Linked DNA regions of Homo sapiens. The protein of the gene in region 2 interacts with the protein of the main gene of each other region in a pairwise test. Each region holds a gene or a part of one and is shown on either strand. Other genes may lie near its edges.

Region 1 (6,866 bases), on a different chromosome or scaffold from region 2:
ACACTCTCTCTTTCTCTCTCTCTCTCTCTCACACACACACACACACACACACACACACACACACACACACACACTAGTTAGTGCCTTGGATGAGGCGGGGCAGTGTGTATATGGACCCCTGGACTTGCTACCTTCAGGGTTCCATACTCGTCCCTCCCCTCCTGGCTCTGCTGTCTGGAGTCTGGCAAGCGGGGTGTGTTCAGAAGGTCCTAGGCCTGTGTCGCATGTCCAGGCACTGGCCTGACCATCCGGCTCCCTGGCACCAAGTCCCAGGCAGGAGCAGCTGTTTTCCATCCCTTCCCAGACAAGCTCTATTTTTATCACAATGACCTTTAGAGAGGTCTCCCAGGCCAGCTCAAGGTGTCCCACTATCCCCTCTGGAGGGAAGAGGCAGGAAAATTCTCCCCGGGTCCCTGTCATGCTACTTTCTCCATCCCAGTTCAGACTGTCCAGGACATCTTATCTGCAGCCATAAGAGAATTATAAGGCAGTGATTTCCCTTAGGCCCAGGACTTGGGCCTCCAGCTCATCTGTTCCTTCTGGGCCCATTCATGGCAGGTTCTGGGCTCAAAGCTGAACTGGGGAGAGAAGAGATACAGAGCTACCATGTGACTTTACCTGATTGCCCTCAGTTTGGGGTTGCTTATTGGGAAAGAGAGAGACAAAGAGTTACTTGTTACGGGAAATATGAAAAGCATGGCCAGGATGCATAGAGGAGATTCTAGCAGGGGACAGGATTGGCTCAGATGACCCCTGAGGGCTCTTCCAGTCTTGAAATGCATTCCATGATATTAGGAAGTCGGGGGTGGGTGGTGGTGGTGGGCTAGTTGGGCTTGAATTTAGGGGCCGATGAGCTTGGGTACGTGAGCAGGGTGTTAAGTTAGGGTCTGCCTGTATTTCTGGTCCCCTTGGAAATGTCCCCTTCTTCAGTGTCAGACCTCAGTCCCAGTGTCCATATCGTGCCCAGAAAAGTAGACATTATCCTGCCCCATCCCTTCCCCAGTGCACTCTGACCTAGCTAGTGCCTGGTGCCCAGTGACCTGGGGGAGCCTGGCTGCAGGCCCTCACTGGTTCCCTAAACCTTGGTGGCTGTGATTCAGGTCCCCAGGGGGGACTCAGGGAGGAATATGGCTGAGTTCTGTAGTTTCCAGAGTTGGCTGGTAGAGCCTTCTAGAGGTTCAGAATATTAGCTTCAGGATCAGCTGGGGGTATGGAATTGGCTGAGGATCAAACGTATGTAGGTGAAAGGATACCAGGATGTTGCTAAAGGTGAGGGACAGTTTGGGTTTGGGACTTACCGGGGTGATGTTAGATCTGGAACCCCCAAGTGAGGCTGGAGGGAGTTAAGGTCAGTATGGAAGATAGGGTTGGGACAGGGTGCTTTGGAATGAAAGAGTGACCTTAGAGGGCTCCTTGGGCCTCAGGAATGCTCCTGCTGCTGTGAAGATGAGAAGGTGCTCTTACTCAGTTAATGATGAGTGACTATATTTACCAAAGCCCCTACCTGCTGCTGGGTCCCTTGTAGCACAGGAGACTGGGGCTAAGGGCCCCTCCCAGGGAAGGGACACCATCAGGCCTCTGGCTGAGGCAGTAGCATAGAGGATCCATTTCTACCTGCATTTCCCAGAGGACTAGCAGGAGGCAGCCTTGAGAAACCGGCAGTTCCCAAGCCAGCGCCTGGCTGTTCTCTCATTGTCACTGCCCTCTCCCCAACCTCTCCTCTAACCCACTAGAGATTGCCTGTGTCCTGCCTCTTGCCTCTTGTAGAATGCAGCTCTGGCCCTCAATAAATGCTTCCTGCATTCTTCTGCCTCCTGTGTCATTTTCAGCTGTGTCTGATGTCCTTCCCTTCTCCCCAAGCATGGAGCAGTCCATGGGACTCTGGGTGGCTGGGAATATTTGAGACATATGGGATGGGAGCTTGGGAAGAAGCAGCCATGGGGAGAGATGGGAACAACGGACAACTTGAGGCCATAGAAGTACCTGGACTGCAGTCCTGGTCCTGTCATGGACGAGCGGGGTGACCCTGGGTGAGCCCACTCCTTCTCTAGGCCTCAGCTTCCCCATCCGTATAATGGGGAGAGTGGGTCTAGGTAATGTCTCAGGGTGGTATTGTCCAGGCCCTGACCACAGAGCACTATCACCAGAGTGGGCAGGGCCAAGCTGGGTCAGGGCTCTGTGCTCTGAGGCTGTTTCCTCATGGCAGGTGGGGGTGCCAGGGCAGGAAAGGCGCCACTGTAAGAGGTCCCGTCTGAGCCAGGCAGCCCCAGTGAGGCAAGGACTCGGGCCATGAGGCATCCTCTCCTGGCAGGAGTGTCCTTTGGCCAGAGAAGGGGATTGTGATCCTGCTCCCAGGTGAGGCTAAGCTTGCCCTGGGAACACACCTCACTCTTCCTCTCTAGAAGCTCAGGCCCACCGAGGGCCAGGAAGCTAAGGTCAGGGTGGTGGACAGCAGAATCTAGGCTTCTGATTTGAGAGGTGTCAGAAATACACCCCAGGATAGTCTGCCAGCACACAGACACCGGTGGTCCCCACCCTGCACCCAGCCCATCCTTGCTAGGCCCACCCTTCCCCAGGAGTGTGTGCCTTGGACCCAATCTTTATCTTCGGCTGGGGCCTCACTGCAGCACAGTGTCCCATTGCCTACTGGTGATCTCATCCCAGTCCCCCGACACCTCAAAGTTCATCCAAAACTGACCTCAGTGTCTGCCCCCACCCCTCCTGCTCCTCCCCTTCCAGTCACCCAAGCATGAAACAGGGGAGTGGGACTCCCTTTCCTCACCTTCCACATCCAGTTCCTCACCAAGACCCAAGGGTTCTTCAAATAACCCTCAACTCCCTCTCCTCTCCATCTCCTTGTCACTGCCCTGATCCAGCCACCCCTGGTGACAGTCAGGTCCTCCTGCCTCCAGTCTGGCCCCCTCCAACCCATTTCCCACATGGCAGCAAAGATATCTTTGGAAAATGCCAATCCGATCACTCCATTTCACCACTTTAATCTTGTCAGCAACCCTTTATAAACACAGTTTCCTTTTGAAAGCCTGCTGGGATCTGGCCGCTGCCCCCACTGTCTGGGCTAATCTCTCAGCACTGCCCCCAGCTCCGGCTCTACTTGCCAACCCCCTACCCATCTTTGTAGGTGACATGTCCACTGCCTGCCATGCCCCTTCTCTGCCCAGTGAACTCCCACTCATCCTTCAAGGCCCAACTCCAGTGTGTCCTCCTCTGGGAAGCCTTCTCACCCCCCACCCCAGGCTGAGCTGGTAACTCCCTCCCCTGGGCTCTCCCAGAGCCTTCCCCAAAGCTTGTTTACCCGTCTGAATCTGACCTGGCTGAGCTCCTTGAAGACAGAGCCCTGCCTTATTTATTTTCAGTCCTTAGAGAGAGGCTCAGGGAATGTGAGAAGGTAGAGGGAGGGAGGGAGGGAGGGAGGAGGGGAGAAAAGAAGGCAGGCAGGAAGGAGGCAGAAGAAGAAAGGCAGGAGAGAAGAAAGGAAGGAAGAAAAGGATAAGTCAAGCAAAGATATTGAGGAGCAATTCATTCATCCATCTATCTATCCATCCATTCCTTCCTTCGACAAATATCTGCTGAGTTCCTATCAAGCACCATTCTTGGCACTAAGGATATAACAGTTAACAAGCGGAAGCTACCAGCAGCTGACCCTCAACATTTCCAGGTGACTTTGGTGTGTGCATATGTGAGTGTGTGTGTACACGTGGGTGCAAGCCCTCTGTCTGCACAGGCCTGTTGCCAGGGCACCTGTCTTCCCTAGGGTCTGGTGCTTTTAGCCTCTGGCTCCAGCTCCTATTGCAGCCCGAAATAAGGCTGTGACCCATGGCAAGGCAGGAATGATTCTCATCAGCTGAAGCCAGAGCTGGCTGCAGGGGACACCCTGCTCGCTGCCTACTGACTGCTGACCGCTGACTGCCTACAGGGACGCCACGCAACTCTCAGCTTCCCGACAGAGGTGTTAATCTTGAGGGTCTAAGATTCCCTCCTGCCTATTGTGGTCCCATCCTCTCAGGTACCAGCATCCTAGGGGAGCTTGGGGAACTCAGGGGAGTGGGCAGAGGAGGTGAGCCAATCCCCAGAGCTCCTTCCCCCGGAGAGGAAGGGCCCTGCAGTGGATCTAGGGAGTTTGGGGCCCCATGCAAGCCTCGATCCTGGTTTGGGAGGAGAGGAACTCTAAGCTCTAGGTTACCCTGCATTAAATGGGGAGGGTGTGGCTAGGATTAAAGGTGGGGAATAGGTAATGGCTCTGCTCAGGACTTTGGGATTTTTAGGCAGTAGAGGGAAGCAGCTTCTCTGTAAAATGAGAGACCCTTCCCAGCATCTGTGAATTTCTGTAAAGGGAGTGTTTATCAAGAAACAGATCTGTGGACTGTGGAATCCTAAACGGTTGTGATCGAGGCATTCTCAATCATCCCATGACCCTCACCCCAAATGCATGTAGACACACTCATGTTTACGTATAGTTTTAGGGGGTTTGTGAACACCCTAAAGCCCATCCATGGATCTCTGTGATTTAGCCTAACCCCCTACTGTTACAGATGGGGGAACTGAGGTGCAGAGCTGGAAAGCTACTTGTTCGCAGTTACAGAGAAAGCCAGGGACACCCACTAGACTCCAGTTGCACAATGCAGTGCCCACTGACTCCCAGGGCCCCTTGTCGGTGTTGGGGATACAGATGAAGGCAGATTGTTTTCTAAAGGAAGGAGTATAGGAAAACCTGGAGGCAAAGGAGAAGGGTACCCAGGTGGGTGGTCAGTCGAGGAGCTCAAGGGCTCTGCCTCTTCTCCAGAGGGCAAGTTAAGGTACCTGGGCAAGTTAAGGGCTCTGGACCTCATTTTATTTGCAAATCTCTTCCAAGATTCTTTGAAAGTGCCATGAGATACAAATAGGGGGATGGAACAGGAGGAAGAGAAGGGACGAGGGAGAAGAGAACACCACGGAAGTTAGCCCAGTAGCGGGGAGATGGGGAGGACGGGGGATGGTTCTCTCTGCTTGGTTGGACCAGCCTGTGCCCTCAAGCGTCAGGGCCAAGTGCCAAGGATGAAAGGGGCTCACCAGCCTTGCAGACCCCAGTGTAACCCCAACCTAGTCCATCCTCCCCCTTCCCCTAACTTAAACCTCCAACTTCTTTCAGCCTTGGACTAGGACTCTCCTGGGTCAACCGATGACAGTAGTGCCTGAGACCTTTGCCTGCCCCACCCGGATGCCCCTGGCACCTACTCTCCCTCTGATCAGGATGCCAGAGCTGGGAAAAGGCCCTAGAAACCACCCCTGAAGAGACAGTGCTTCCCTAGCAACATGAAAATAGATTCGTGCAAACTTGAGCACCTCCCTCTCGTTCCCTGGGCCTCAGTCTCCTCTGCACGGAGACCCTGAAGTCCCTTCCAGCTCAGACATCCCTTGCTTGTGATTTGGGGCTGGCCTAAAGCTGTTCAGGACTGGGGCAGGGTGAACCAGAGACTGGAAGGAGGTCTGGGGAGAAATGGAGGCAGCCTGGTCCATTTATGGGGGTCTCTCCTCCACAGGATGATCCCCAAGGAGCAGAAGGGGCCAGTGATGGCTGCCATGGGGGACCTCACTGAACCAGGTAAGGTGGTTCTAGCCTCATGCCTTCCTCAGACTCCATCATTTCCTTGCTCCCAGGCTGCACTCACTCTGGCCTGCTGGCCCCAGGCCTGGGCAGACAGGTGTGAGCTCCAGGCCAGCTCTGAGGGAGTGCCTGTAGAATTTGCTGCCTAGGCTGGGAAGCTTCCCTGAGGCACTGGGAGGGGTCTTGCCCATCTGTCCACAGACCCAGGAGCTGAGGCTGAGTGTCCCAGGCTGGGCCTTGGCTCTAAAATGACCCTGGCCCTGGCTTCATCTAAGGCCTCACCTCAGCCCCAAATTAAGCTCTGAAGACTCTGGTCCCAACTCCAGCCCTACCTGTGGCTGCAAGCTCTGCACACACTTGCCTTTGCCTATTACTCCTGTGGGTCTCACCGAGGCCTCTGGGTGGCCCAGGATGGCTGGGCCCCATGGCTAAGAGAGGGGAGTGGAGAGAGTGGAGTAGGGTGGGAAGACAGGGGAGTCGAGAGAGTGGAGCAGGGTGGGAAGAGCAGGCTGCCCATTTGAATACAAAACTTTCTACTTAAAGCTGATTCATCAAATGAGTAAATCATTTTTATCATTTCATTAAAAAAGTTTAAATTCATTTTTATCAATTTTAGAAGACCTCTTGAGGAACTCTTGATACAATTTTGGAATCTGTTTATTTGGTCTACTTTAGAGGATTTCAGGTATTTTAAAAATTAATTTAGGGGCTGGACACAGAGGCTGATGCCTTTAATCCCAGCACTTTGGGAGGCTGAGGTGGAAGAATTGCTTGAGCCCAGGAGTTTGAGACCAGCCGGGGCAACATGGTGAGACTCCATCTCTACAAAAAAAAAAAATTAGCCAGGCATGGTGGCACATGCCTGTGGTCCCAGCTACTCAGGAGGCTGAGGCAAGAGGATCGTTTGAGCCTAGGAGTTGGAGGCTATAGTGAGCTACGGTTGTGCCACTGCACTCCAGCCTGGGTGACAGAGGGAGACTCTGTCTCTAAAAAAAAAAAAAAAGAAAAAGAAAAAAATTAATTCAACTAAGTCAGAGTTCTCAAGCTTTATTGTGAATCATAATGATTTGATGTTGGTTAAGCATACAGAGTCCCAGCATCTACTCCTGAGGATTCTGACTCAGGGGACCTAAGTTAGGACTTGTGCATTTGCCTTCAGCGTGCTAAGGAGTCAGTCATATTTCATGACTTCATATGTGGCATCCTTTTAACCTATTTTGTGTGCTCTTGCCTCCTTTTGTTGATGTCCAGTTTCTTCCCCTAC
Region 2 (7,019 bases):
GGGCCGGGCCTGTGGCATCAGCCTCCCACCCCCACCCACATGGAGCGGGAAAGTCGGCAGAACCCTGGGGGCTCAATTGCTGCCAGAGTGGCGGCCTTCAGCTCGAGGACAAGCATGTCCTCTGGGGAGCCCCTCTGCATGGACGGGTTCAAGGGGCACTGACCCCAAATAGCCATCCCTCCCCACTTCACCTGGGGCCTGCACCTCCACCATCACCCACCCTGGGTGTGGGGAGGGGGTGATGGGCACACATTAGGATTTTGGGGTGAACTGGATGGAGGCCTTCTCTCCCCAGAGGTGAGGGGTCCGAAAGTCCATTTGTTCGCTCATTCAACCACTGACCCGGTGGGCAGTGGGCACAGTGGGTGCCTGGCAAGGGGCAGAGGAGGCTGGCTGGTTCGACGATGCTGCCCCATGCCTGTAACCCAGCGCAGTGACTGCTGGTGGCTCCCCAGCTGGGCATGCCTGCCCTCCTCGCCTCTGCGCTCGCCTGACGCCCCCATGCGGCCTGCAAGACACAGCCGGGCCTCCATCTCTGCAGGACCCTCCTGCCCCTCGCCTGGCCAGCGGAGTTTCCCTGGGCTTCACCCTTGAGACTGTGTTGCCCATTGCTCGGCCATCGGTCTCTCGCTGGCCAACGAGTGCCTCCTCCCACAGCCCCGTGCACGCTGCGGAGCCTGGCACAGGCCGGACTGCGCGGAAGCCCGGGAGGATTTGCCTGCGGGAGAGGAGGCAGGGCGAGGGGGCTGAGCCGCGAAGGCTCAGGGCTCTGAAAACAAGGGAGGAGGCGGCCTGTGCAGAGGGCCAGGCACTGGGCTGGGGTCTCGGCTGGCAGGAGGCCTGAAGGCACCACACAGGCCCTTCCCTGTCCTCAGTCAACAGGGAGCTGGTGCGGAAGGTGGACGGGAAGGCTGGGCTGGTGGTGCACAGCAGCATGGAGCAGGACGTGGGCCTGCTGCGCCTCTACCCTGGGATCCCTGCCGCCCTGGTAGGGACCGCCCCGGCCATCCTGCCCCTGCAGCCCTGAGCCCCAGCCCTCTGCAGCTCCCACGGCCCTCAGGCTCCCTGGGGCCCTCACCAGCCAGTGCAGACCCCGCGTGGACCTGAGATGTCTGCAGTGTGGCCCCACCAGCCCCAGGCCCTGTCCCCTGTCCTCCGTCGTGGTGCTTTCCAGCCTCTCGGGGAGTGGGCAGGGTTGGGGCGCGGCTCACAGCCAGAACGGGGTCCTCCATGCTTTTCTAGAGGCAGCGTCCTCCCGCAGATTCCAGCTGGCTGGGAGCCGCCCCTGCTGTGCTGGACAAGGGTGTTTGCTCTGGGGCCTCTGATGGCCTTCTTGGCTCCTCTCCCACCTCTCTGAAGTGTTTCCACGGCGTTCTGCCACACAAAGCCTTCGTCCCTACAGACAGGGCGACCCTTTGGGAGAATGTGGGGGGAGCAGCCCCCTCCAGGTGCCAGCAGCCATGCACGTCTGCCAGGAGCCCCACTGTCCCGGGAGCAGAGCAGGCACCAGCTGCCCCTGGCTTGGGGTCCCTCTCCTTGGGAGGGCATGGGGCGAGTCTCAGTGGTGCTGAGGGCAGAGACCCTCACCATCCAGCCCCCACCCCACCGCCCCACAGGTTCGGGCCTTCTTGCAGCCTCCCCTGAAGGGCGTGGTCATGGAGACCTTCGGTTCAGGGAACGGACCCACCAAGCCCGACCTGCTGCAGGAGCTGCGGGTGGCCACCGAGCGCGGCCTGGTCATCGTCAACTGTACCCACTGCCTCCAGGGGGCTGTGACCACAGACTATGCAGCTGGCATGGTAGTGCCGGGAGATCAGGGCCTAGCGGGGAAGGGGACAGCCTGAGGGCCTGGCAGAGGTGGGCTCTGACCCACCCCTCATGGGCTGGGGGCCGTGGTGAGTCGCCCTTCCTGCCCACACGCCCCCTCCTCACAGGCCATGGCGGGAGCCGGCGTCATCTCAGGCTTCGACATGACATCGGAGGCCGCCCTGGCCAAGCTATCGTATGTGCTGGGCCAGCCAGGGCTGAGCCTGGATGTCAGGAAGGAGGTGCGGGCGCTCTCGGGCTGTGGGCAACCCTCGGTGTGCACAAGCATGTCAGTTGGCTCCCAGGGGCATGTCTGGGGCGATGCCGGAAGAGCCTGGGGGCCGGTCCAGGGTGTGTCCTGTTTGGGAAGGGGAGGGATGTGGCTCCCTATAGTGGGGAAGGGCAGCTCTGGGCCCAGGCTCCCCACAGCCCTCACTGGACTCCCAGCCCAGGCTCCGCCTGTCCTTGTGCCTTCTCAGACTGCATGGAGACCTGAGGCTCCCCTAACTGTCGCCAGGAAATCCTCTCCTGCTCTCCACTCTTCCTCGAGGGTGGGGTTCAGACACAGCTGGCCCCAGACCCTTGGGTTGCCAGCCTCTGGGGCTGGACGGAGGCTTTTGGGGCCCCTGGAGACCCTGAGCTGGTAGGGCCAGGGAGTGGGGCTGGCCTTGGGAGGGGACCCAGCCCGCTCTGGCCCGAGGGATGAAGCACACACGGCCGAGGCTCAGGCCAAGGGCAACCCCTGACTGTGCCCGGGTAGCCCGACCCTCCAGGCTGTCCTGGGCTGCCCATCCAGCCCTGGCAGAGCCACTTCACCTCTGTTCTCTCCACCAGCTGCTGACCAAGGACCTTCGGGGGGAGATGACGCCACCCTCGGTGGAAGAGCGCCGGCCCTCACTGCAGGGCAACACGCTGGGCGGTGGGGTCTCCTGGCTCCTCAGTCTGAGCGGCAGCCAGGTAATGGCGTGGGACACGGGCCTGAGTGGCAGCTGGGGACTGTGCACCCTCTTGGTCACCCTGGGATGCACCAGGCAGGCACGAGCCCCTGTAGCCATCACTCGAGCCCAAACAGTTAGGCACACCCGGGTTCTGGGGCCCAGGAGGAGGGTTTGGGGTCTGCAGCAAGGAAGGTTTGCAGGGTCTATAAGGCAGGAGGCAGGAAGGGCCAGGCGGTGGGCACACAGCAGGGAGGCCTTCTGACTGGCGGCGCTGCCTTAGTGCGGGGCTGCCTCGGGAGCTGCCTGTCCAGAAGAAGGGCGGGTGAGTGGGGGCGGTGCTTGCTCTGGGCTCTCCCAGGCTCTGAGCACCAGGGGTTCCAGGTGAGGAACCCGGAGGTGAGGGCCAGCCTTTGAGCACGTCCCCTGCACAACTGAGGTGCCCAGACCTAGGAAGGGGGGCTTTCGAGGCCTGGGGTCTGCAGGGGGATGGGGCCTCCCTGGACCCCGCAACATGCCCCCTTGGCTGCTGGGCCAAACATCCAGGCCTGACATGGGGCCTGGCAGGCCAGACAGCCTTGCTCCCCACTGTGTGGGGTCCTGCCCCGGCCTCAGTGCCTCGGTTTCCCCCTACAGGGATGGACCTGTCTTGTGAGCCATGTGCTGGAACTGCCACTTGCTGGGGCGGGTGATGGGCAGATGGAAAGGACTGGCGTGCATGGCCTGTTATTAGGGTGGCTGCATAGGGCCTGAATGCTGTAGGGAGGCAGGCCAGAGGCAGCAGCCTTGTCACCAGGCCACGTTGTACCCGCTGGGTGTGGTGGCACCTGTGGGGCCTCTGCCAGGACCGCTGGGTGTGGTGGCCCCTGTGGGGCCTCTGCCAGGACCGCGGCCTTTTGGCGTCTTGGGGAGCTCCTGGTGCCCGGTGCTGGGGGCAGGTGGCTCTTCTGGGAAGGTGCAGCCGTGGGAACAGGGCCTTCCTTCCAGGGGAGGGGTCTGGCTCTGCTTCCCACGCTCTCCTTATGTGGGTGACCATTCCGTCCCGACGGCGGTGGGAGCAGACGGGGGAGTCTGGGAGGGTGGGTAGCAGGTACTGGCCACACACCCGTTGGGGACAGGGCTGGATGGTGGTCTCGTGGCCTGGCCTTAGCTCCAGGGGAAGGGGTCCTAGGTGGGCCTGGATGGGGTGGGGTGGTGAGGCTCAACCCCAGGCCTTCCGATGTGGCAGCTCAGGTTCCTTCTCACCCACGCCCTGGGATCTGCGGGCCCTTGTGTGGGGGCTGGCAGGGGTCATACAGCACCGGGGACTGCCAGTTCCACCAGATGCCAAAGGGAGGCGTGGGTCCCAGGGTGCCGCCTTCCCCACCTAGGAGGCAGATGCCCTGCGGAATGCCCTGGTGCCCAGCCTGGCCTGTGCTGCTGCCCACGCCGGTGACGTGGAGGCGCTGCAGGCGCTTGTGGAGCTGGTGAGCCTCCCCCACCCTGGGGGCCCAGCCCCAGCCACGCCTGGCCTGGGGGCTCTGAACCCTGTAGGCAGGACGGCCTTTCATCCACCCACTGACCACACTAAGCCCTTGTCAGCCAGACTGGGCAGCAGGACTGTCCTGCCAGCTTGTCAGGTCTCACTGAGGCTTTGAGGGTGGGCGCAGGGGCTGTGCTGGGCCCTACCCTCAGAGGGACCCCACCCTCCCCATGGCCTACCTGGCCCCGCCTGGGTCTCCCTCAGGGGTCGCATGTCCTTGTGTTACTCCAGGGCAGTGACCTGGGCCTGGTGGACTTTAACGGCCAAACCCCACTGCACGCGGCCGCCCGGGGAGGCCACACAGAGGCAGTCACCATGCTGCTGCAGAGAGGTGTGGACGTGAACACCCGGGACACGGATGGCTTCAGCCCGCTGCTGCTGGCCGTGCGGGGCAGGTAATGGAGCTAGGGCTGCACAGAGCTGCCTTGGACAGGTGGGCGCAGAGAGGCTGTGGGCTCCTGCACTCAAACAGCCTCCCGGGGCTGGGCTGGGAGAGGTGGAGGACACCTGCTTCCTAAAGGCTGCCCCCGCAGCCCGGGGCCCAGTAAGACCCCGGCCCAGAGTTCCTAGAAAACAAAAATGTTGTGGACAAAGCTGGGAGGACACGGTGCATCTCTGTGCACCTGTGGGTATGGGGGGCTGGGGTGGAGGTGGGGCAGAAGGTCCTGGCCCAGCAGCCAGACGCGGTCAATAAAAAGCAGGCTACGTGGCAGCAGATCTGGGGCTGTGACAGGCAACTCGGGCCCTGGAGGACAGGCCCAGCCTGTGCGTGTGGGGGTCCCCTGCCCCACCAAGCAAGCCCTGGCTGGTGTCTCTTCCCAAAGTCCAGAGCAGCAGCAGAGACGGAGTGTGTGCCTGTGCCCCTGCGTGGGGGGCGGGGCCAGCACTGGTGGGATCTGCGTCCCGTCTCCCCTTCCTACTCTTTATTGCCCCAGCCTGGGAAGGCCAACGACCTGTCTGCTGGTGCCGCTGCCCGGACCCATGGGCTGCTCAGAGATCCCAGGGCCCCTGGGGATTCCTCCCTGTGGGTGGGAGGACTTGGCCTGCAGGACCCTGGGTTCTTTTCGGGGAGGGAGTGCTCAGGAGTCCCATGGAGAGAAGGCCGGGGTGTCTGAGCCTGGGGTCATGTGACCCTGACGTGTTCAGTTGTGGGTTCCCCTCCCCAGCGGTGAAGCGGTGAGCCCTGGGGTGGGGTGTGGCACCTTTTGTGAAGTGGGTGACTGGGGTAGAAGGTTCTTTCCAGCCTCCTGTGATCATTGACAGGGTGCTCAAAAGAATAGGAGAGAACAGGGTGGTGGACAGGAGGGGGCGGGGCTGTGAGGGTCCCCCCGAGCAGGGCTGGGGTGATCCGGACTGGAGCTTCTAGACTGGGCGTCCTTGGGTGTGGGTGGGTGGCGCGGAGACGAGCTCACACAGTCCCGCCCCCTCGTCTCCTCCTGACTCACAGGACCAGGCTCACAGCACGCCCCCAACCGGTCTCCCAGCCTCGCTCCGCTGCCAGGCTCCCTGAGGCCGCCTGCCTGGCCCTGCTGTGCCTGAGTGGGGTATGGGGAGGCCACTGCCTCATACCTATTCCCAGGCTCCCTAAATGGGGTGATGGGGGGATCTGTGGTGCTTTGCAGGGGTGGGGGCACGGCCAGCGATTATGGCACAGTCTTTAGGTCACCCTGTACAATGGGCTGTGTGGCCTCCGGCCTCGGGCCTTTGTGCCTCTGCTCCTCCTTGCTAGAGCCCCGACCCCACCCCCACAGACTCCACTGTCCGGGTGCCCTGCCCCCACTCCTACCCAAGGGCAGTCGGCCGGATTGATTCAGTGTCCCCTGCGCCTGGCTGAGGAGGTCACCACGGGGTGTGATCAGCGTTTGGGTGTGCAGTGGGGCCGGTCAGCTCATGTAAGGCTGTCCTCTGAAATGGGCTGTCCCCTTGGAATGGGTTGGGGAGACTGCCCTGGGAGGAGCTATTCTGCTAGCACCAACTAATGCCCTCCCCTGGGTGCTGGGTGCGGGGCTGCCACAGAGTTGACCCCACCCCTTGCAGACCTCAGCTGCCCTAAGAAGGAGTACTGGACAAATGGAGGTGGTGGGATCCCGGGATGATGTCACATGGGCCTAGGCAGAGGATGGGGGGATGGGCCCTTGTCTGAGGCTAGGGCTGTGGGGTCTTGGGCCGGCCGGTCCCCGTCCCTGTGCACAGGACATGAGCTCTGCTGGCTCCTGAGTGAGGTGCAGCGGGGCTGGGCTGGCCAGGGCAGAAGGTCAGCATGCTCATTCTCACACAGGCATCCGGGTGTCATTGGGTTGCTGCGGGAAGCCGGGGCCTCCCTGTCCACCCAGGAGCTGGAGGAAGCAGGGACGGAGCTGTGCAGGTGAGTGCAGCTAGAGCACCTGCTCTTCCAGGGATGTGGGGGACACAGCTTGGGGAAGCGAAGCCAGACCTGCTGGGAGGGACAAGTGAGTCAGGGTGTGGGGGCTTTCAGAGGCGAGGCCCGCTGACCTCAGTGTGCACCAACCTGGCTGATGGGAAGAGGTGTCTACCCTGGACCATGTCATGGGGCAGGGGAAGGAGTTGTTCTCAGCTGAGCGAACAGTCCAGCAAGGGTGTCTCTGTGTGCACATGTGTGCATGTGTGTATGCATGTGTGTGGGTGCATGTGTGTGTGTGTGGTGGGCTTGAGGAGGGGTATGGGAATTGGTTGTCGGGTGTGAGAGGGGCTGGGGTGTGGACTGGGGGGTGGCTGGGGCTGCATTTGGGGAGGTT
Region 3 (7,758 bases), on a different chromosome or scaffold from region 2:
TTCAAAAATTCTAAATAACGCCAAATTAAGATTGTTTTCAGTTTAACAATTTTTCAATAAAATAAGTTCGAGGTTTTAAACTCAACATGGGCAATGCGGGAATTTGCACATGTGCGCCAACAGAGGGCCATGTGATAATTTGAATCAAACATGCACACACACTTTAGCATCTGGTTTTCTTTCTGCGTGATTTCAAACTTCTCCAGGACAGCAGAGGACAATGCCTGCGTTTATGTTCACATCACAGCACCATTCATGGCTGCTAATGAACAAGGAACCAAAACATGGATGGTACAGAGCCCTAATTAGTCATGCCATGCACCCCTCAACCCATCACTGCAACCCCTTAAATTTGAGGCAACACAAAGTAACCCCAAGACACAGACAAGCTCTGTGCAGATCCAGCCCTTTGACTATGAATACTACTGCTGATGCTGCCAGTAAGTCACAAACCTTACAGCAACAGATTGTCGACGCAGAGCCGTCTTATTTTCGTACATTCATCATTATTTTGCCACATTTGACCTTTCAAACTTGATGCTGGCCTTCCTTCTTTAAAAAGCAAAAGCAAAGTTCTAAGCAAAGTGATTAAAACAAAAATTTAAAGCCATAAGTTTGAGAATTCTCCCTCAATTTGAAAACTACTCTGTTTAATATGACAGGTAGAAAAAGCTTTGCCAAGGTCTATTTGTCTATTTGAAATGTAGGCTTTTTAAAACAGCAATTATGCTAACACCCCAGAAGTAAACACAACCTCAAAGCTGTCAGGGATTTTTGGTTTGGTTTGTTTTTTTCTTTTTGTTTTGGCCCCTGGTTATATAATTTAAATAAGCAAAACAAGAAGAATATTCAGTACCTCTTAAAATAAACTCAACCAAATATGCATATATTATGCTCATCTATACCCCTTTGGTAAAATATAATAATCCATAGTTTGAAGGTTAAATTAAAAAGCAGACTGAAAAGGTGAAGAAGCCCTCTTTTAACAACAATGGCCACATTCATCTGTAAGTACTTTTTATATAGTTAAAGGCAATCCACAAAGTTAAGTATTTCTGTTAATATTTTGGTTCCGAAATTACCAGACACTGCATTTTACCTGAGGATGTGTTCTATTTAATTTTTACACTGGAATCTGCAGCCAATATTTACGGAACAGACATCCTGGGGGTTTCTCAGTGTTATTGAGGACACGGTGGGGATAGAGTTTGTGTCTCATTTCTTTCTCAATACAAAGCCATGCCTTGGAGTGGCAGGATTGAAATACTGCAACTTCCATCCTTAACCCCTGTCTGCTCGGCTGTGGAGGCTGTTAAAGCTCTGAGCTGCCCAACCGGCAGAAGGAAATAACCGCGTGGCAGATTACTTGAACTGTGCTGAGCATTTTTCCTTAAATATCATAACATGCTTGCATAAGGGTGGAATTTTATTGACTACATCGTGATTTTATCATCTTTGTGTTGGAGGAAAAAACTCCTTTCCAGCCTGTGGCTCCAAGCGCAGCGCCCTAGTTCCCTTTTAGCACATTTAAATGGAAGACTACAGTCACCAGAAAAATAGTCCCAGAATTCTCATTCCGCTGCTGTAAACCAGAACCTTTCCTTAGGGAATGAAAGACAAACCCCAAGAAAACCTGGACTGGGTGAGAAAGTAAAGCCCGTCGAAGAGAAAGCAGCACAGCATTTGGCCTGCTCTGCAAGGAGCTGGGAATTCTTGCTGCGGGGGGCAACAAGATACCCACCCTCCCGCCGGGGAAGACACAGCAGGAGTAGGGCCGCCACTCCGTGCATCTCTCCTCCCGGGGGCTGCCCAGCTCTCCCCAGCGCGTTTCCTAGATACTAGGCAGGCCGGACCCCCGCTGCCCAGGGTTGGGCGCCCATGACACTGGTCAGACATCTGGTAAGCCAGGTGGCAAAGGCGTGCCAAAAAAGTGGAGCCTAGGGAAAACCGGGACGGAGCGGGCCACCCGAGTGGTAAACCTTTTCCCAATGGATGCGGGAAAAGCGCATTTGTAGTTCCCTCCTCACCGCTGTCAAGCGAGCTGATTGCTAAGGAGTGCGCATTTGCTTGCCTCTAACGTGACAGTCGCGGGAGCGCCCCGCACCCCGGGCTTCAGGGAATGAAGGAGTCTGCCCCGAACTGGCCCCAGAACCCCCAGCCCCCAGGGCGGCCCGCGCCCGCACCCACCTTGACCACGTAGGTGACTCCGGGCCCCAGCACCTGGTCGCTGGCGTGCGGCGCCCCCCGAGGGGGCCTGGGCAGCGGCTCGTCGCCGGGCCGGCCCTTCCTGGCGGCGCTCATGGCCGGGGCGCGGGGCGCCGAGGGCGCACTGCCGTCCGGGGCGGCCAGGCTGGGCGCGCTGCAGCTGCCCGAGAGCCGCGCGCCCGCCCGCTCCCGGGCGGCCGACGACAGGCCGCGGAGGCCCGAGCTGGAGAGTTTCAGGTGGGACACCTTGTGGAGCAGGTGGCCCAGGCTGCCGGGCCCATCGTCGGGCGCCTTGCGCAGCGCCTCGCCGGACACCAAGTAGGGAGCCGCCGCCGGGGTCGCGCGCGCCGCCGAAACCTTGCCTCCGCCGCCGCTCACCGACAGGCTGTGGAGAAGGTCATCGACCGATGTCACCGAGTCATTCCTGAAGCGGTTATACTTGGTGCGTGGAAGCATGCCCCTCCGTGGGCTCGCTGCATCCGCCCGGGCGCTGCTGGTGCCGGCCCCGGCGCGGGCTGCCGCGCATAGCAGGCGAGCCACTGTCCCCGGAGCGGGACGGAGAGTGGGGGCCCCGGGACAGCCTTCTGGAGAACGAGAGCAGAGCAAGAGGATGGTGCCCTCCCACCGTTAAAAGCCAGCACAGCGGCGGCCGCGCAGCCCCGGCCCGGGAGACCGCTGCTTGGGGTTGCACGTTTGCTTTGCAAAAGTCATAGTTGCCTCTGATGGAGCGCCCAGCTGCTTGGGGCTGCTCACAGCAAAAGCATGACTCACTCTGAGAGGAGACCCTTCTCAACAAAGGCTCGGTGAGCACTGCAAATCACTTCCTGTAGCAGAAGAAAAAAAAGGAAAAAAAGAAGAAAAAAACGACATCCACCCGCTGACAGCACACTATAGCCAATCAATTCTCAAATTTCCTTTTTCTACCTTCCCAGATATTTCCTTCCAACCTTTGATTTTTCACCTTCCCATCCCCCGCAATCTGCATTTGTGCCAAAGGTAAATCCAATCCAGTTCCTTCAAATCGTCAAATGAACTTTCTGAAACCCATTATTCTGTTAGGTTTTGCTCGTCCCTGCTCAGCCCATCTGTGTGAGCCTGTAAAAGTGTCTAACAGCGATGCGTTAAAATGTGACGAAGGCTTTTTAAGAATCAGATCTTCAGCGAATCCTGATGAATCTTGACTTGGAAGGCAGCAGGAATTTTTAAATAGAAAAAAACAAAAAGGATATTCACCCCCAGGTGACTGTAAAATACCAATTTCCTGGGTTTTGCTTTTTCTTTTCAAATTAACAGAGCAGCGATGACAAGTGTCTTTGTGGCAATGCAGTTCCTCAAAAAAAAAAAAAAAAAAAAATCTGCATATGAACTTCTGCACAGTGCCAATCAAGGGGTCTTCCCTGCTCATTTACAGCAGTCTTTCTCAGCCAGGGTTAAGTTGAATATCCACTTCCAAAAAAGAAGAGTGCTTCTTTCACGAGTGGCAACAGGCTCCAGAAATCCATTCCAAAAAAGGGGCTGCATTTGAAGCTTTAATCCTACTGAATGTGTTTAAGCTCTGGAAAAACGCCTAAGAAATGCTACAAATACATTTCAATGTTCCTTCAGTTGCTGCTTGCAACCCTGCAGTCAGGAAGGAAAAAATGCAGCTGTTCTTATTGCACATCAAATCCACAAGGAGGAAAATATGCCTTCTTTTCAGGAGTCAGGCTCGGGCTTGCAAGTAAAATGCACAGGCCTTCTTCCTCTCAGTTAGGAGAGCAAGGCTTTCGCTGTCCCCAGAGGTCTGCCCGAGACTGAAGCCCTCTGACTCTTGACCTCAGTGGGCTCTGCCAGGCTTCCTCATGCATTAGGATCACCTGCTCCACAGTGAAACACTCACTATCAAAGTTTTCCCGCAACTTCTGAGCAAGCGAATAAATTCAGCTCTAGCACACTCTCAGGTCACCCTGAGTCCTCTCACTCCCATGACCGAACATGTGGGGCACGTGAGGTCCTGAGTCTTGAACCCTGCTCTATGGAGCAGAGTTTAATGAGCGCCACTCATGGCGGGCGAGCGGGTGAGGCCAACCCCTAGGACGCAAGAGCGCAGAGGAGCCGCGGCGTCCCCGGTACAGGAAACGCGTCCCCACGGCTCGCCTCCTGTGCCGCAGCCCTAGCAGAACAGCTACACGGCACTCATTTGTTCCCTTTCCCTAGCTTGCATAGCAACAGCAATTGCACACCCCATAGATGATTTTGATGGTTATCAGAGTCCTCCCCAGATCTGTAGCGAAACAGCCCTATCATTCCCAAAGCGAGATCTTCATTAGATGCAGACAAAAACCGCAAAATGTGAATGAAATGCTGTTTGTGTGAATGAAAAGGCTAGCGAGCGAGCCAGCGTTTCTGTGAATGAAGCAGGGCCTTGCAGCCGGTGCCAGGCAATCCCCTGGGCTCCAGCGGCCTCAGCCAATGAGCGGCCGCCCCGATGACTCATTCAACAAAGGCTTGCTCAATAGTGGAAGATTCCATTTCAATCAAAGGCGGGATCTTTTATCCAACGGCAGTGTGGGAAAAAAAAAAAGAAAAAGAAAAAAAAACACCCAGCCGGATTACAAAGATACCGGGAGGAAGAGGCCAGCTGCTATGGAGAGGAAAAGCTAGTTTTACAAGGGAATTCAAGATCCCTTGGTCAGGTCTAAGTGTGAAGAGGGTCTCTCTTGGAGGTGAGCTGTGCCCCTAAACTTTCATTCAGCCGTTCATTTACATCAAGGAGCAACCATGAATGTGCCAGTCGTTCAGCTTTTATTATGAATGTACATTGAATGCACGTTCAAAACCTAGGTTCCTAGCCCTTGATTCTTTTTTTGTAAAAGGCATGTAGGACACCTGTACACGTTCTGAGGCTCCAGGGAGGAAAAAAAATCCAAAGCTATGTACTTAACGTTTAGCCAACAGGAGACTTTTATTTCTTTTATTATGAGGCCAGTGGAGGGAAATTGGTCATTTTAAAATATAAATAGCAACATAAATTTACTATATATGAAAAGATATATAATCAAAGACAGAAATTAATATTCCAAGAACACAGTAGTACGGTAAAACCTCACTTACCTGGAAAATAGTATCAACATTTTGGAACGTAGCAGAAAGATGGAAAAAGAAAAACCCGAAGGCCTCTCAGCATCAAAAGGAGGCTGTGCAGCCCACACAGAAGCTCACACACCCTACTCATGAGAAAACCCTTTGCCCTTTCTGGGGAGCTGTTCATGTTTATTTTAGACCCTGTACCAGAAAGCCCACATATCTTCTTGATCAACATAGAGACAGATGAGAGAGGAGACCACTGGGACAGAAAATGCTAAATGTAAATGAAATTTTCTGTTGCTGGCTTGCTTGATAGCCATGGAAGGAAGCAGGAAAAAAAAACTCCATTTTAAAGTCAGCCTTGAGATTCACCAAAGCCAGGCAGTCTGGGGCAATTTACAATGAGAGCCTTTCCAGTATGTTGTGGTTTTTCTTTTTTAAATCAATGCTTAAACACGTATTTGCTTTCTATGGCTGCCGTAACAAATGACCACAAAATCAATGGCTTAGAATAACACAATTTATTATCTTCCAGTTTGTAGGTAAGAAGTCCAAATGGGTCATGCTGGGATCCAGCATGGGTGTGGGCCGAGCTGGTTCCTCTGGAGGCTCTGAGGGAGAATCCACAAATTTCTGAGAAGGTGCCATGAGCTGGGCCCTGGGGAAAGTGGTTTTGCCTTCTGGAAGGCAGAAGATCTGAAATTAATGTTATAACCTAGTTAAGACTATGTGAATTTTGTAATATGTGTGAGATACAAAAACTTGACCAAAGGAGTGAGCTTGTCCTGAGGATGCGGAGGTGACCCCTGACCCCAGTGGAGGCATCCTCCAGGTGACTTCACAGGAGGAAACTGTGTGGGCAAGGGCTCCAGGCCTGAGCAGTCCAGAGTCTCCCAGAATCCCTGGTAGGTTGGTTGGGTTGGTGAGGAGGTCAGGAGGCTGGGCACTCATAAAGGCTTAGAGGGGTGATGAGGTTTGGATGTGTGTCCCCTCCAAATCTCATGTTGAAATGTGACCCTCAGTGTTGGAGGTGGGGCCTGGTGGGAGGTGACTGAATCATGGGGGTGGATCCCTCATGAATAGCTTAGCACCATTCCCTTGGTGATAAGTGAGTTCTTGCTCTGAGCTTACATGAGATTTGCTTGGATAAAAGAATATGGCGGCCTGGTGTGGTGGCTCATGCCTGTAATCCCAGCACTTTGGGAGGCCGAGGTGATGGATCACCTGAGGTCGGGAGTTCGAGACCAGCCTGGCCAACAGGTGAAACCCCATCTCTACTAAAAATACCAAAACTAGCCGGGCATGGTGGCAGGCCCCTGTAATCACAGCTACTCGGGGGGCTGAGGCAGGAGAATCGCTTGAACCCGGGACGAGGAGTTTGCAGTGAGCCGAGATCGCACCATCGCATTCCAGACTGGGCGAAAAGAGCAAGACTTTGTCTCAAAAACAATAAAAATAAAATAAAATAAAATAAAATAAAATAAAATAAAATAAAATAAAATAAAATAAAATAAAATAAAATAAATGTGGCGCCTCCCCTCTCACTCTCTTTATTGCTTCTGCTCATGCCATGTGACACTCCTGCTCCGCCTTCACCTCCTGCCACAATTAAGGCCCTCACCAGAAGCCAAGCAGATGCCAACACCATACTTCCTGTACAGTCTGCAGAACCATGAGCCAATTAAACCTCTTTTCTTTATAAATTACCCTCTGGCATTCCTTCTTAGCAATGCAAGAACAAATGGACACAAGGGGCTTGAGAGAGGGTCACATAGTCAGGTTTGCCTTTTATGGAGACCACTTTGATAGTGACTTGGGGTGGCTCTGGGAAGTTGAGAGGAGGTAGGAGACAACAGGACAAGTTAAAAAGAACAAGGGCTTGAATGAAAGCAAGAGCAGTGGAGCTGGAAAGAGAGGGATGGATTCAAGATAGCTGGGAAGGTAAAGGATCTGTCTCTGTGATGAGGAAGTGTAAGAGAGAGCGAGGCTGGGTAGGCTGTCTGCAGCTAGAAGCTAAGACAGAGTTTGGAATGCAAGATGCTTATTAGAGATCAAGCTCCACAGAAAGCAGGGGAGGCTGCAGGAGGGAGCAGAGGCAGAAGTGGGCTGTGACCCAGGCCCCACACACCTCGTCCTTCCAAGAGTTCTGGAGAAAGAGTGCCATCCACAGAGAGTATCCCCTGGCCTGCAGGGCTCCTCATTCACTCTCACGCACTCCCTCACTCTCTCCCACATTCACCTCTTTAGTGTGGGCTGCCCAGGGAGGAACAGCCTCCAGCAGGTGGCACCCCACAGCTGAGCACCCCCAGAAAAAGTTGATGTGAAGGCTGTGTGCCCATGGCACCCTGCAGCCCAGCCTCTCCCAAAGAAAGGAATGCCAAGCAAAGCCCACGTTTCTAACTTGGACCATTGGGTTGAGCTGAATGTTAGCCATGAGGATGAGGAGCATCCCCATGACAGGCAGGTCATGGGGAAAGGCAAGGGCTG

The links. Proteins that work in one complex are often made in the same cells at the same time.
Region 1: the proteins of ASPG (region 2) and MYOZ3 interact in binary tests that used the Homo sapiens proteins (3 or more experiments, as listed by UniProt).
Region 3: the proteins of ASPG (region 2) and SHC3 interact in binary tests that used the Homo sapiens proteins (3 or more experiments, as listed by UniProt).

The regions. Positions count from the first base shown.
Region 1 is NC_000005.10:150,657,404-150,664,269, forward strand, and holds the start of MYOZ3 (myozenin-3), read left to right. Parts: upstream 1-3,847; 5' UTR 3,848-4,024; intron 4,025-5,537; 5' UTR 5,538-5,538; coding exon 5,539-5,599; intron 5,600-6,866. UniProt on the Homo sapiens protein: Myozenins may serve as intracellular binding proteins involved in linking Z line proteins such as alpha-actinin, gamma-filamin, TCAP/telethonin, LDB3/ZASP and localizing calcineurin signaling to the sarcomere.
Region 2 is NC_000014.9:104,102,688-104,109,706, forward strand, and holds part of ASPG (60 kDa lysophospholipase), read left to right. Parts: intron 1-875; coding exon 876-988; intron 989-1,616; coding exon 1,617-1,799; intron 1,800-1,934; coding exon 1,935-2,048; intron 2,049-2,640; coding exon 2,641-2,763; intron 2,764-4,111; coding exon 4,112-4,207; intron 4,208-4,494; coding exon 4,495-4,658; intron 4,659-5,710; coding exon of another isoform or gene 5,711-5,807; intron 5,808-6,014; coding exon of another isoform or gene 6,015-6,155; intron 6,156-6,541; coding exon 6,542-6,628; intron 6,629-7,019. UniProt on the Homo sapiens protein: Exhibits lysophospholipase, transacylase, PAF acetylhydrolase and asparaginase activities.
Region 3 is NC_000009.12:89,175,800-89,183,557, forward strand, and holds the start of SHC3 (SHC-transforming protein 3), read right to left. Parts: upstream 3,020-7,758; 5' UTR 2,662-3,019; coding exon 2,188-2,661; intron 1-2,187. UniProt on the Homo sapiens protein: Signaling adapter that couples activated growth factor receptors to signaling pathway in neurons. Involved in the signal transduction pathways of neurotrophin-activated Trk receptors in cortical neurons.